Linked DNA regions of Homo sapiens: region 2 is linked to region 1. Evidence: fine-mapped expression QTL. A gene starts in region 1. The other region holds a variant in brackets. All regions are shown on one strand. Distances are from middle to middle. Region 1 holds the start of MASP1 (MBL associated serine protease 1). Region 2 overlaps MASP1 (MBL associated serine protease 1).

The links. PIP is the estimated chance that this variant, and not a neighbour inherited with it, causes the effect.
Region 2: its variant is fine-mapped to the expression of MASP1 in fibroblasts (GTEx, PIP 0.92).

What each region holds. Positions count from the first base shown.
Region 1 is chr3:187,290,401-187,293,430 of GRCh38, forward strand. It overlaps MASP1 (MBL associated serine protease 1), which reads right to left and starts at 1,337. Exons shown (of 11, transcript NM_139125.4): 1 at 1,228-1,337. The coding sequence starts at 1,232. LOC101929130 (a long non-coding RNA gene) reads left to right here and starts at 872. Exons shown (of 2, transcript NR_135551.1): 1 at 872-1,136.
Region 2 is chr3:187,260,541-187,263,040 of GRCh38, forward strand. MASP1 (MBL associated serine protease 1) reads right to left here. Exons shown (of 11, transcript NM_139125.4): 3 at 2,003-2,180; 4 at 201-332. Among named protein-coding and RNA genes, the nearest start is that of MASP1, 30 kb to the right of the region's middle. The variant T/C (reference allele first, on the strand shown) is at 1,255.

The sequences.
Region 1 (3,030 bases):
GCACTGAATGGTAGGGTGGGATTCAGACCAGATCATTGACAGATAAATGAGATTATCATTCAATGTAGATTGACATAAATCACTTTTTTTTGGAGAAAGAAAAATGATGTTTAATGGCAGGTTTAAAATTACTATGGCTTTAAGAAGAACAGAATTATTGCACTCACTTTTTAAGGACCTGGTTATCTCTCTGAACCACAGGTAATCGGAGTTCAAAGAGTTAACATAGTCTGAAGCCTCTCATTGGTCTCAGGTCCAGAAAAGTTGCTAGGTTACTTTGCAGAAGAGAAACAAATAAAAACACTTTCCCAAGTGAAAAGAAAATTAATAGTAAAAGATGTGTTTAGGGACTTACACATCTGCAGAGCATTGTGTGTGTGTGTGTGTGTGTGTGTGTGTGTAACAGCATTAACACTTAACTAATAAAAATAACTAGGGTGGTTGGGTTTTCAGACTTGCAGGATAGAACTTGTATGAAAGGTCTGGTAAGGAGTGTCAAGTATAATGAGGAATAAGAAAGGTTAAAGAGTTTAAAACCAATTAGAATTTGAAGTTCTTGATTTCAGAACTCTAAAATCCTTTTTTTTTTTTTAAGTATGATATCTCTTTAAGAGCCATTTGGTGTACTTCATAGCCTGATTCATGCCACCAGCTGCCTCTGATTTCAATGAGAAATGCAGAAAATTTATAGGGAACTGTAAAATGGGGACAGATTTTTAGTTTTCTAAATTGAGGTTTAACTGGCAAACTTGTAAAGGTTGAAGAAACCACAGAGCCAAGCTATGGGAAGCTGGTTTCTTTTCTGGTCAGAAGGAATGAACACACAAACACATATCTAACTCACAAAGTGCTGGAAGAGAGAAAGCAATGCTCTTTCCAGAGGAGGAACACGGAAAAATCAGCCTTGTGGGTGAACAGGAGGAGAGTCACATTCGCCAGCAGGCAGCACCCTGTGCAGGCAGTGGGAGAAATCTGAGCTTCAGCAGCGTCCGGAGCAGGATTTGCACGAAGTCTCCCGTTTCAAGTTTTATGTCTCCTGGAGTCCTGGGGAAGGCACCCAGCCCACCCACAGCTCCCTTCTCAGAGCCCTAAGAATTGATGAGAAAGCCCCTCACTACCACATGCAGGACACGCAGGTGAGTCTGTCAGTGACAAGGTCAGACCTTCCCTGCTATTTGACACTGGTCCCCAAAAGGGAACCGTGCCCTCTCCTCCCCTGGCACGTACCTCATTTTCCTGCCTTGGGTGCTCCCGGCTGCCCGGCCTTGGTCCTCCCAGCTTGACTTGCCTGTGAGCTCGTGCCCGGTGTGGTGTCCGTGATGCCTTATCTTTGTTCTGAGGTCCCTGTGTGTCTCTGGAATTGGCTGGCATTCTCCATTCAGGTCACGCCTTCCCCTGCCTGCAACAGATCCCCTCTCCCCCTCTCTCCCTCTGGCTTTTCCTCTCTCCTCTCTCTCTCCTTTGACTTGCTCTTGCACTCCCAGGAACCTGACAACAAAATCTGTCTTCCTACCGAAAAGATCTGCTCCTTCCCTTCCCTCCTTTATCCTGTGTGGCTGACTTCAGCCCTTGAGAGAAAATAACTGAGGGGCTCAAGCAGGTATTTGTATCACTCTGTGTGTGTGTGTGTGTGTGTGTGTGTGTGTGTAGAGAGAGAGAGAGAGAGAGAGTGAAAGGGGACAAAGTCTAATTTCTCTTTAGTCTTTTTTGCCAGATGACTATAATTTTCTGCTTTTCTTCAGGACACCCATGAAAGAAAAGCAATTAAATAGAAACAACCAACTAAGAAGGCAATTCTAGCACCTACACTAGAAGAAAAAAAAAAGGTCTAAATCCCAGAGCGTCTGTCTGCAAATAACTACAGGTTTCCTTGTGAGCAGAGCCCCAAATAACTACAGGTTTTCTCGTGATCAGAGTCACACACAACGACAGGTTTTCCTGTGAACAGAGCCACGGGCCCGGAACTGGGGAAGCACCAAGTCCTGAAGTTGGCTGGTTGTTCCTCCCCATGAGCAATACCTGTGGCACTGTTTACTTGCTCGGAGTGTGTGCGGCTCTACTCCAGCCCAGAAAGGGCCCATCGCAGCAAGAAATCTCACCTCCCCAGGGGTGTAGAAAGACCTGGGCCTGTATATATGTCTATACCCATGGCTTCCGGAGAAATCAACACTAGATCTAAGATGAGCTGAATAATAAGAAAATTACCCCCTCCACAACAACAACAACCAACACTGAATAGGGAGAGGTGTATCTGGGTGTAAAAGTTAAGTTTGACTGTGCACCTTTTCTGTGTTAGACACAGTACTAGTCATTAACATCATCTCAAGTTACTTTTGCAAACTGGTGAAAGTGCTGCTGTTATACTCATTTTACAAGTGAGGACACTAAGGCTCAGAGAGAATATGCCACTTGCCAAGATCATCCAGTTATTTATGACTCCCCACTGCCACTAGCACTAGAAGCTAACAGCTATTGAGTGCTACGTGTCAGGCACTGCTCTAAGCACTTAATATATGAATTCTTTTCAGTCATCTTTATATGTTGTATACATGGCTGGCAATATTCTCATTTTTCAGAGGAAATTGCCCAGAGAGGTTAAGTAACTTTCCCAAGTTCACACAGCTAGAAAGTAATAGAGGCAGAATTTGAAGTGTTAGCCACTGTATTACACTGCTACTCATTAACATTTTATAATGCATATGGAATTTCAAATGCACACACACAGACGGCATTCATAGAGAAACTCAATCTGAGTCATTTTGAAAAGAAGATTAGACTCAGAGTTTAGCTGTAATCTTTCCTTTCTACCCAAGACAGCTGTGTACTTTGGGCACAATACTTAAGGTATCTGATTCTGTGTCTTCATTTGGAAAATGGGAGTTACTATGAGGCTTAAATAAGACTGTGCTTGTAGAAGTGTCCAGGGGAGTACCAGAGAGAGGGCTGCCAGCCACACTCACCAAAGCGGCAGACACATGCACTGTCTACCCTCAGATAACGTTCCTTTGGCACGTTCTGGGGAACAGTGGC
Region 2 (2,500 bases), 30 kb before region 1:
TTCTCTCCTTTGGGAACCCAAGATCAGGTTTCCAGGCTGGGTGGGCATTTCTGCATCTTCATCCATGTGGTGTCTGAGGTGCATCATTGACTTCATTTTTACTTGTTCCTATTGCATATCTGTCTTTCTCTGAGCCTCATCTAATGTTATTGAGGATGTGGCCTATAAGGGCAATGCATACAATCATTGGTAGGCTCTACCTCGGCAGGTCCTGTTGTCTGTGTGGAGGATGTAGCCGAAGCGGCAGGAGCAGTAGTAGCCGCCAATGTAGTTGTGGCAGTAGTGGTCACAGGACAGCTCCTCGTCCTCCCTCTCCTTGCACTCGTCCACATCTGTAGGGCAGGTAAAGCCTCTCCATCAATACATGCATGATGATGAAGACTACAGCCAACATTTATAGAGCACTTGATATGGGCCACTCACTATGTTAGGAGATTCATGCGTTCTCTCATTTAATCCTCTCATACAGCCCAGAGGTAGCCATTATCTTCACTTTACAGACTAGGAAACTGGAACTCAGAGAGGTTAGGCAACTTACCCAAGGTCACAAAAAGCCAAGTTCAAACCCAGGTAACTTGACTTCTGGTGGGACCACTATCCTCTAACAGTTATAATAATAACTGTGTGTGGGACAACAACCTCAGGAAGAATTACACATTTGTTACTATGCATTCTGTTACTAGTCACATTCTATGGAGGATGAAATGGCGACATAGAGGCATTAACAAACTTAGAATCACACAGATAATAAGTGGCAGACCCAGGATTTAAATACAGACAAGCTGGGTACAGAGCTTGTGCTCTTAACTTCTACCTCATGCTACCTCTTTCTTTCTTTCTGCCCCTAATGTGGGTCAAGCCCTGTCCTAGGCATTTGAATGTACATTTCCCCAAAAGGGATAAACCAATGGCCAACAAGCACATGAAAAGATGTTCAACATTGCTAGTCATTAAGGGAATGCAGTTTAAACCACAATGAGGTACCACTACATACTCACCAGAGTGATTAAAATTTTTAAAAATTGACAACATCTAATGTTGGTTTAGATGTGGAGCAGCCAGAACTCTCATACATTGGTGGACAGATAAAAAATGTTACATTTGCTTTGGAAAAGGTCTGGCAATGTCTCATAAAGCTAAACGTATACCTATCCTATGACTCAGCAATTCTTCTCTTACATATTTACTCAATAGAATTGAAAACATATGTTTGCAAGAAGACTTGCACAAGAAGGTTCATAAAAACTTTGTTAG[T/C]GAGAGCTAAAAAATGGGGAGATTCCAAGTAGCCGTCAATAAGAGAATGAGTAAACATACTTTAGTATATTCATACAATGGAAAATTACTCTGCCAGGAAAAGGAGCAAATTACTGATGCATGCGACACATGAATTAACTTCAAAAACATTATGCTGAGTAAAAGAATCCTCACCCCCAAAATGTATTCTGTATGTTTTCATTTAAATGAAGTTTTAGAAGAGGCAAGAACTAATCTACAGCAGAAAAAAAATCAAAACAGTTGTTTCCTCTAAGGGAAGTGGGAGCAGAGATTGACTGGCAGGGACACAAAGGAACCCCCTGGGCTGGTGGTAAAGTTCAGTGTCTTGTTAGAGGTTTGGGTTACACACAAATACAGATTTTTCAAAATTCAACAAATGTATACATGAGATATGTATATTCCATTTTATGTCAATTTTACACAAAAAGAAAAAATGCTGTGAACAAATATGAAACTCTAGCAAAATAATATGCATGCTGAATTATTTAGGAAGAAGTATACTGATGTCTGCAATTTACGTTAAAACACTTTGTAAAAGATGAATTGCTGGATGGATAGAGGGTAGATAGATGGATAGATACGTGATAGAGCAAATGCATTAAGACATTAATGGTAAAATCTATGTGGTGCACACACAGATTTCCATCGTAAAGGAGAGGTCACAAGGCAGTTTTCATCTTCGGAGAGAGAGAGAGAGACCTGAGGATGAGTCACTTCTCCAACTTACCCACAGCCATGTAGTGGGCATCAAAGCCTGTGAAACGCTCCTCATTGGAGAAATCTGACCGGAAAGTGATGGACATGAAGGAGCCAGGGGAGAGGACCACCTCCTGGCCGGGAGTCTGCTCTGTGTCTGTGGTCTCCCTGCCACAGAAGGTTGCCAGCACCTGGTCCTCAGTTTCTACCTTTGAGGTCAAAGAGAAAGGGAACAAGATGAGCAGTTTCCCAGCTAGGCTTCTTTCCTTATCTTTAGAAAGAAAAAGGAAGGGGCCACCCAAGAGTAGGCTAGTCAGCCTGAGAAACCCAAAGAAAGGAGGTTAAGGATTCTTGAGAAAAGACGCATTACAAGTTAATTCAATGTGGACATCTGATCAGTTTCATTCGTCTTATTTAGTTCCATTAGAAGTAGCTTGATATTTGTTGTTGCTGTCAATAACCAAGCAGCTTATTTATTAAAAATAACTCAATATGAAAGTTTTAAAAAGTTAGATAACCTCGCAGACAG